Homo sapiens: one gene and its partner. The protein of the gene in region 1 purifies or fractionates together with the protein of each later gene. This does not show direct contact. Each region holds a gene or a part of one and is shown on either strand. Other genes may lie near its edges.

What was found.
Region 2: the proteins of LCN1 (region 1) and PDYN purify together in Homo sapiens (affinity purification with mass spectrometry; 3 studies listed by BioGRID and IntAct, with this or other methods). This does not show direct contact.

What each region holds. Positions count from the first base shown.
Region 1 is NC_000009.12:135,524,439-135,527,079, reverse strand, and holds the end of LCN1 (lipocalin-1 isoform 1 precursor), read right to left. Parts: exon of another isoform or gene 2,578-2,641; coding exon of another isoform or gene 2,251-2,577; coding exon 2,149-2,250; coding exon of another isoform or gene 1,973-2,148; exon of another isoform or gene 1,949-1,972; coding exon 1,923-1,948; coding exon of another isoform or gene 1,922-1,922; intron 737-1,921; coding exon of another isoform or gene 563-736; 3' UTR 540-562; downstream 1-539. UniProt on the Homo sapiens protein: Could play a role in taste reception. Could be necessary for the concentration and delivery of sapid molecules in the gustatory system.
Region 2 is NC_000020.11:1,984,040-1,991,079, forward strand, and holds part of PDYN (proenkephalin-B preproprotein), read right to left. Parts: intron 2,914-7,040; exon of another isoform or gene 2,067-2,913; intron 2,061-2,066; exon of another isoform or gene 1,956-2,060; intron 378-1,955; exon of another isoform or gene 1-377.

The DNA.
Region 1 (2,641 bases):
TGTCCCAAACCTACCCAGGCACAGAGAGGGACAGCGTGGAGCCAGGCTCTGGGGGCAGTGCTGGTGTGGCTCCCCGGAGGACAGGACTGGCTTCCCCGGTGAGCTCAAGCCCGAGCCACACCCTGCCTTGAGCTGCTGTCCCCTCCCCCCACGTCCAGCCTCACGGACTCAGCATCAGTGCTGAGGGCACTGGTGGCTCTGCCCAGTCCCCTCTGGGTGGCAGCTGCGCTTGGTCCCAGGCCTTCCGGTCTTACTTGTGCAGGACCGAGGAGTGGAGCCCTGCCCCCACCCCCGCAACCCCTACAGCCTGAGCTCAGCGGGCGGCTGACCTGCAGGAAGCACCCCGGGACCTTCAGGCCCAGCCTCCAGCACACACCCCCCTGCTAGGCCCCTCCCACTGTTGGCCTGTGGCACCCACCAGGGAGAACTGGGTCCAGGCTGGTTCCCTGTCCTTCCTCCTGCTTCCCACCCAGTCCCTGCACCCAAAAGAGCACCCAGCCAGCACCTCTCACCCCGAGGGACCCCACAGACAGGCGGAGTCACTGGGAACTGCTGAAGCTCTTTATGGAGAACCAGGAGAGGGGGCGCAGGGCAGGGGGAAGGCGGGGGGTGGTAGGAAGGGGTGCAGCCAGCCGCGTTCTGCAGGGGTGGGGAGCTTTTTCCATGTCCCTGTGAATGACGGAGGTGCTGGATGGTGCCGTCCTTGGGCTGCTGAGGAGCCAAGGTGTCCCCTGCCCTGGAAAGGGGGGGAGGGTGAGTGAGGCCAGGACAGCAAGGGTGGGAGGGGGATGCAATGTGGGGGCGCATGTGGGCTCTTGGGTGCTGCAGTGTGGGGGCCCATGTGAGCTCTCAGGGGCATGGTGTGGGGGGCACACGCTGCACTCTTGGGGGCTGTGATGTGGAGGGCACATGCAGGCTCTCGGGGGCTATGGTGTGGGGGGCACAGCAGGCTCTCAGGGGTGATGGTGTGGGGGGCACATGTGGGCTCTCAGGGGCATGGTGTGGGGGGCACATGTGGGCTCTCGGGGGCTATGGTGTGTGGGCACATGTGGGCTCTCGGGGGCTATGGTGGGGGTACACACTGGGCTCTTGAGGGTTACGGTGGAAGGCACATGCGGGCTCTCGGGGGCGATGGTTGCGGGGGCACGTGCTGGATCTCAGAGGCAATGGTGTGGGGGACGTGCACCGGGCTCTAGGGGGCTATGGTGTGGTGGGCACATGCGAGCTCTTGGGGGCGATGGTGTGGGGGGCACACACGGACTCTTGGGGGCTGCAGGTGGGGGCTCCAGCCTCTAGATTGGAGCGGATGGAGCAGGGACCACCCCCGCAGGCTGCTGACAGAGCTCCCTGCTGAGTGAAGTGGCATCAGGGTGACTGCAGGCCAAGGGGAGGGTGCGGGAAGGACAGCGATGCTGTCCAGGATTCTGGCTCTGCCCACACCTGGGCAGGTGACCTTGGGCGAGTCTCCAAACTCTGGTCCCCTTGTGCAGCCAGCAAGGGGCCCATCTGACACAGCGAGCACAGGCACGCCTGCCACTTTGCTGAATCTTTGAGCAACTTATCGGGTAAGTGGAGTCACAGGCATGGCCGAGGGTGAGGGGTGCTGAGGAGGAACCCGAATCTCCTGCCTGCTCCTGCCCATGTGACTGGGGGGTAGACACCGTCTCCACCAGCAGCCAGCAAAGGCGGGCTCAGCGCTGTGGGCTTCCCAGCTGCCCAGGAGTCACACCCAGGGCAAGAACGGAGTCTGACGCCCGAGCGTGGGCAGCTCAGGAGCAGAGCTCCCACCTGCCTGACCTACGTGGGGCATCTCCCACCCAGGTAGGAGTGGGATGGGTGGGAGAGACCCCATGGCCTCTGGAAGCACCACTGAGCCCCAGAACTGGATTTTCTCAAATGTCCTCTAAAGCTGTTCACTCACCCTAATCGCTCCCTGGAGAGCAGGTTTCTGCAGGAAAAGGAAGCACAGGCGTTAGGAGACCCCAGGAATGCAGTCAGGACCGGGGCCCCTCATCAGCCACCAGCTCCACCACCCCAGGAAGGACAAAGCCAGAATTAGACGCAGCACAGTTATGCGCCCGTGCAATGCAGCTCTGCTGATGTCCCCACGCGGGGACATGGGGGGCTCTGCAGGGCCATGCCTCCTACCGCTCTGCCTGGGGATGAGGATGCTCTCCGTGCTGAGTCCGCGGGCTCCTGCGGCTTTCTCAAAGTCCTCCAAGGCTTCCAGGTTGTTCTTGGGGTCTCTGCCTGTGGGTGCCAGGACGAGATGTGGGTGCTCGAGGCAGCACTGGGCCGACGGCACCCCATCCCAGTCTGGAGGCCTGAGCTGGGCTGGGGAAGGGGACCTCGCCCACCGTGGGGGGAATTGAACCCAGAGGCCCTCAGGCTGGCAAAGTGGGACCAGGGTGCCGTGCACGGCTGAGAAGGCTCCTGTGGCAGCAGAACCGGGAGAACGGGAAGGGCTCTCCATCCATCCCTGAGCATCTCCCGGAGTGAGGATGGACGGCACGACAGGCCCACCCTGGAGGAAGCGCCTCTCCCCTTGGGGGCACCAGGATCCCAATCCTCTGTCATTCGCACACCCCTGGCTCCAGGGAGAACTCAGGAGCCTTCATGGGCCTCGTCCTCTGACAGGGAC
Region 2 (7,040 bases), on another chromosome or scaffold:
AGGTGAGCTGCTCCTCCTTTCTATTCTCCCAGCAACATGTGCCTCTTCCATGAAAATAGTCTACTATTTGGTAATTAGCTATGCGAGTCTTCAGGATTTGGTTCCACGTCTTGTCTTTTTCTCTGAAATAGTCACTCTGTTCCTCAAATAAGCTTGCTCCTACCTCAGGGCCTTTGCACTTTCTGTTCTTCTGCCTGCAGTATTTTGACCTCAGACTTCTACATCACTAGTTCCTTCTTTGTCATTAAATTAGTTGTCACATTGGCAGAGAGGCATTTACTGATCACTATGTCTAATGAGGCTTCCTTGGTCTCTCTCTTACATCACCCTTTGTTTGCATCAGAACACTCCCACCTCATAGTCTCCTATCTATCTGATGCTTGGTTGTTGTTGGTGGTGTGTATGTTGTGGTTATTGCCTCCCCAATAGAATGTTAGCTCCTTGGGGACACAGACCCTGTCTTATTCTCTGCTGTATACTAGCTCCTAAAACCCCGGCCAGCACATCGCAGGTCCTCCATAAATTCTTGGCAGATGAATTAATGCTTCATAAATACTCTGTTAAAAGTTGTCTGTTTTGCAGGGCATGGTGGCTTACACCTGTAATCCCAGCACTTTGAGAGGCTGAGGCGGACAGATCACTTGAGTTCAGGAATTTGAGACCAGCCTGACCAACATAGTGAAACCCCATCTCCATTAAAAATACAAAAATTAGCTGGGAAGAGTGGCATGTACCTGTAGCCCCATCTACTCAGGAAGCTGAGGCAGGAGAATCATTTGAACCCAGGAGGAAGAGGTTGCAGTGAGCAGAGATTGTGCCACTGCACTCCAGCCTGGGCAACACAGTGAGACTCCATCTCAAAAAAAAAAAGTTGTCTGTTTCATAGTCAGCGCTTTATAAATCAGACATCAAGACTCAGGGCCTCGATATTTGATTTATGGGGGCGCAGTACAGTTCTTTCAACTGGATCCTCTAAGACACTCCACCCCACCCTGGCCAGGGGCTTCATGCTTCGCCCAGCATGGTCTTTGTAACCTGACAACACCAATTTACTCTCAGAAAAGGCTGTCCTCTTTTCCTCCAACTTCCCCATCCCTGCAAACTGCCGTGTTTGCTCAGGTGCTCAGAGTGTTTTGAAGCTTCCACTCCACGGGCCCCAGAACCCCACGCTGTAGCCAGAGCAGGGTCTCCCCGTTAAAGCATGCAGTAGGCTCCCCCACCAGAGCATGCCTAATAGTGATCCCAGCCGCCATTTATCAGATCCCTACTGCTCTAAGCTCTTCAATTCATCACCTCATTTATTCCTTCAGGGAAGCGGGCACTTCTGGTCTGGTGAATTGCCCATGTTCTACCTCGAATAGTGAAGCTGGGGTGCAAGGCCTGCTCTGTTTGACCCCCTACACTTAATGACTACAATTTCTAGAGCAACTTCAATTCAGTGGCAGCTGCACCCTCCGTGAGATCCAAGGGGCTTTATATACAAGGCCCTTGACCTGTGTATTGTACTTAGCCTACCCACAAACTGTGAGAGGTGGGTATCACTAGCCCCACTTTATAGACAAGAAAACTGGTGCTCAGAGAGGCTTAGTAAATCTCCTGAGGTCACATAGCAATTCGAGGCATAAGCTCAGGCCCATGTGCCTCGCTTGAGGCTGGCAAGGTCGGCTCCCCTGAACCAGGGAGGCTCAGTGGAAAAGTCAGGGAAGCGGACTTGTGTCCCTCCTGTGTCTTTCTCTTCCCCTTGAGTCTGTCAGCTGCGGAGTGGATTACAGTTCCCCACCAGTGAGCCATACAAAGCGGGCAGCTCATGTTTTCTCTGATATCAGTGATGGCTGGGCTGGCCTGTTAGAAGATCAGCAGTGAATTAACCTACTGGGGAGGGGGCGCCTACCACACCATCTAACTCCTGGCCGAAGGCTTCCCACACAGCTTAGCTGCAAAGGTAGGGGACTCACGTTAAGATCTCTTTATCTCAGGCAAAAACAGCATTGGCATCCTTGTCTTTCATCCATTAACTTTATATTGAATGATAATTCTGGTTGATCTGAAGGTAATGAAGTACTCACGATGTTCTGAGCAGTTCTCGTGGATTAACTCATACATATTCACAGAAACTCTACAGCACTGGTGCTGTTGCCATGCCCACTTTACAGATGAGGAAACTGAGTTAAGATTCTAGAGCCTGCCAAGATTCTACAGTGAGTAAGTGGCAAAGCTGGGATTCCTACCAGGCTGTCTGGCTCCAGAGCTACCTTCGTAACTGCTGTGTACTGCCCAGGCCCCTTCAGTCCTCTCATCTCCAGCCTCCAGCTTCTCCCTCCAGGTGGACCCTCCACCTGGTTCTGGAGTAGCCTCCAATCTTTCCCTCCTAGACACTTTCCACGCAGCAGCTGGAGGACCCTTCTGAAATGCAGATCTGACTGCACCTCTGCCCTGTGTCCACTGGCTTCCAGAGGAAGATTGTCCCCATCACCTAGCAGCCCCGGGCTCTCCTAATACCAACAGCTGACATTTGCTAGTGCTCCCTGTGTGCCTGCCCCTGTGCTCAGAACTCTGTGTGTCTTATTGTAAGGGGGTCCTTCTGACAACTCCGTAAGACTGGGACTAATATTCTCCCCATTTATGGATGAGAAAATGGGACACAGAAAGATCATATAGTCTGTCCAAGCTATCCCAGCAAGTACACAGCACCCAGACAGATTGGATGTGAGTTCTGCCCATCCTGGGCTTGACCAAACCACCTGCAATTTCAAAACAAATGCTCCACACACCCCACCCTCCAAGCCTTTGCACAAAGGGTTTCCTCTGACAGGAACATCTTTCTCAACCCACTCATCCACTCCCATCACACTTTGACCTGGCTAATTCTTACTCATTATTCAAAACTCAGCCTCAGTTGCCTCTTCCAGGAAGTCTATCTGGATTAGTTCCCTCCTTTGAGCTCCCACGGCCTCCTATGCTGGCTCCATCACAAAATTACCACTTACCTGTCAGTCCCTTATGGGCAGGTAGGGGGGTCGCTGAGGTGCGAGTGTGTTGTGCTTGAGGATGACAAAGAGGCCAGGGTGCATGAAGGGACGTAAGGGAGAGACTGGGGTGAAAAAGCAAAGAGGTGGGCAGAGGATGGATAATGCCGGCTCTCATAGGCCAAGGGAGAGTTTGCATTTGATCTAAATGTGACTGGAAGACTAAGGAAGTTTGAGTGATTGATGAATGAATGAATGAATGAATGAATGAATGGTGTCCCAGTACCTCATACAGGGCTAGAATGAGAGCAGGAGCTGCACACCAATTAGTTATGAAAATAAACAGGCAATATTTTAAAATTAGGCAATTTTTACATTTAAAAAAATCTCAATTTTCAATTTGTCTTGAAAAAACAAAAGGCCTGGGGACATTGAGCCTGTATTCCAATATGGCAACAGTCACAGAGGAAGAGCCATACTGCCCATCGCCACCCGCGGAACCACCTGGGGCTTCCCTCACTGCCGACTGCCTGACAGACAAGTGAGTCTGCAGCCCCTGAATTACCCACTCTAACTCGGAGAAGCAGCATGGGGTGGAAGGGACACAGCTGTTGAGAAAGGAGAGGTAGGACCTCAAATTCTTTCCTGACCCCGAAGCAGGATCACCAAGTGGTCAGTAAAGTGGGCTCAGGTCTCAGCCCACCACTTACCACCACTTTAGGAAAATGACTTAGCTTTACTGTGCCTCAGTTTTCTCAGCTACAAAATGGGGCTAATAATAATGCTTCAGAGGGTGGACATAGGAACTAAATAAATGATCACATTTGAAGCACCTAGCTTGTGCTTGAAGCACCTGGCACATAGTAGGTGCTTTGGAGAGGGGAGTATGAAGACTCCAGTCTAGTCTTACTTGAGCTGTAGGGGATAGGAAAAGAAGAGGGCAAAAAGGAGAGATCATAAAGAGCTTGGCACACTGCAGAAACAAAAAATGCTGCTGCATGACTCACTGCCGTGGACGGAGGGCCTGCTGGGTGTTGGTCTGGGCTGAATGCCCTTCATCCATGATCCTGTCAACCCAGCAACAGCCACCGATTCTCAGGAGCCTACTGGGTGCCAGGCTGTGCATTACTGCTTTGTACATATTAGCTCCAATCCTCACAGCAGCCCCAGAGGTGCATGTTTTTCTTTTAATATCCATTTTACAGAGGGCCAGACTGAGGCTGAGAAAGGGGAACTTGCTCATCCAAGTTCACCTGGAGTTATGAATGGGGGAGTTGGGCTCCTGTCCAGATCCCTCCGGGTTAAAAGGGGACCCTAGTAGAGACACATTGGCCCTCACAATTTCATAGGTGATCCTATTTCCTTCCTTTTATAGGATAAATACATTACTGAACAATGTCAGATGGGCCCCAGGGGAAGCATTTCGACCTTTCTGATGGGGATTTGCCAAGGAATGGAGCTGGGAAGTCACACATAAGAGAGAGCCCTGCCTGCCTATCATGTCTGATTAGGGATGGGCCAAGGAGGAAAGGAACTTTGCCGATCATCGGGATGAGAAGTGGGAAGCAAGCCCCCTTGGTAAGCGGGAGGCATGATGTCAGTATCTGACCCTGATGGAGGGCCTGCATGGTCTTCTTTCACAGACTTGGCCAAGGACCCGGAGGCCACACAAGGAAAAGTCCTTTGCACTTGGCAGTTTGTGAAGCTTTTTCTCAGCTGCTACCTCGGGTGCTTTGTAATAGCCCAGTAGGGGAAAGAGGGGCTGATGGGGCAGTGGGGTGATTCTCCCCTAACAGGTGGGGTTGTTTCAGACTCACCAGCCTGCCTAATCACATGAGCCAATTCCTTACGTCAATCTCTTTCTGCGGATAGGCACACCTTGTTGGCTCTGCCTCCCTGGAGAACCTTGGCTAATACGACACCCATGCCCCTTTGTTTGCATCTATGTCTGTGGTTGTTTTCATGCTGCAAAAGCTGAGTTAATTGCTGAAACAGAGACTGTAGGGCCAAGAAAGCCCAAAATATTTACTCTCTGGTCCTTTACAGACAAGGTTTGCTGACCGTACTTTGACTGGTTTTATAAACATTTTATGATTCTAATAGTTTTTAAGCTAATTTTCTTGAGTCCTCAGGCACTTGAACATATTCTTAAATAATAAAACATTTTTTATGCCTTGCTAGTGGATGGATCTCTTGCCAGGAGGTCAGGTGGGTTTCCTGATGGAAGAGGCAGGAAGCAACTGGCCCCATTCTTCAGCCCTGAGCCCTTTCTAGTTGCCTGGACTGCTCTCCTGGCAAATACTGAGAGGACCTGGGGAGGCTTGCCTTGGGATTTACCTTTTCCTTGAGAGGGAAAGGCATGGGCTCTGCGGTCATTTGGTGCCACCTCCTCCACAAGCCTCAGTCTTCTCATCTGTGATTGGGGTGTATCATCTTCCTGCACTGAGACAGCACTGCTTAAAGGGCCAGCACAAGGTAGACCCTCTTTTCACCCAGGGCCCAGAGTTCCTTGAAAGGGAATGATCTTTTTGACGTCTTGGCTTCTCGATGATATTTCTATATTGTAGTCAGCTGAGGGCTCAGAGGAGCCGCAAGCGTTTTTATTTAAAAAGCCAGCATGGAATAATAATGGCTTGATTTAACATTGCAATTATCTCTCTGAGCACTTTAGCGCATATGATTACCCCTATTTGATGAAAGAGGAAATGGGAAAAGGTAGAAATGAAGTCACTTGTTTAAGGTCATATCATGAGTCACGAGGGAAATGGAGACAGAACTCCAGCCTCCCACACCTGAACCGTGACTCCCACTAAAGAGATGCCATTGTTTCAATGACCCTGCAATGACAACCATCCTAACAGCCAGCAAGGACTGAGACGCTGTTCTGCACCAGCCCCGTGCACTCCAGGTGCCTCCCGTGGACCCTACGGGGCAGGGGCTAATATTACAGCTTGGGATCCAGATGGGAAGGTGAGGATCAAGTGACAAAGTGCCTCTCCGTGGTCACAGAGCATGGCAGAGTTGGAATTCTCTAAGTCCATCGCATTCCTCATTTAGGGTGTAGCTATGAGAAGGGACAAGCTCTTTGCTGTCCACTTTATCTCAATTATTTCTCTCTTCTCTTGAAGAGAATCCAGTGGGTTGGGAACTATTAGTTCCATTTCCAGATGGGGAAAACAGAGGCTCAGAGTCTAAAAGACTGGGCCAAGACCAAGAAGCAAGGAAACAGCAGAATAAGATTTCAGAGTCAGTCTGCTGACCACGCCACAAACCATCCTGAGGCCTAAATATGTATCGAGTGTCTTTCGGATAACCTCCCAAACTCTCACATTCCTGACGTTGAAACCATTTCAGAAGCTTTTGCCCCACACTCGAAAGTGTAAAGTTCACCCTTGTGGGTCTCCAGGTGGTTGGCAAAGGGAGCCCCTGAACCTGGAAAAGCGGTGCCCCTTGTTAGGTGTTAGCATCGTAACGAAAGACGAATGATCAATGGGAAGGAGGCTCGGGTTCTGAACAGAAAGTAAACCCACACTTTAGCCTGGCAAAGATCAAAGCACAGAATCGGATGAGGGTCCCGTTTGGTGGTCGGCTGCATTTGCTGTGCAGAGACCAGAGGGAAAGACGGCCTTGCAGGCAGTGGTCCTGGTGGGATCATTCACTGCATATTTAAAAGAACGTTTTTCAAGAGCAAGGTTTGGATGGAACCGCCACCCTTTTTGTTATCTGGTGCAATTAAGGGATGGGGAGAAAGGCAAAAAGAGGATAAGCTAGAGAGATATGGAGATGAAGAGACATAGAGAGAGAGATGTAAAAAGAGAGAGTTAGAGATATAGACACAGAGAAAAAGACAGGGGCCCAAAAGAATGGCAGAGGTGAGAACTGCACACACAGAAAAAGAGACCGAGACACCGAGAAAAAGCAGAGAGAGGTGGAGGACCATATGGGAAGAAAAAATAAGATGAGACATAGAGATGGGGAGAGGACAAATGGGAATAGAAGGGAAGGGGGTGAGGAGGAGGGGAAGAAGAGGGAAAAAAGGGAAGGGAAGTGAACACAATAAGAGAGAGAGAAGTG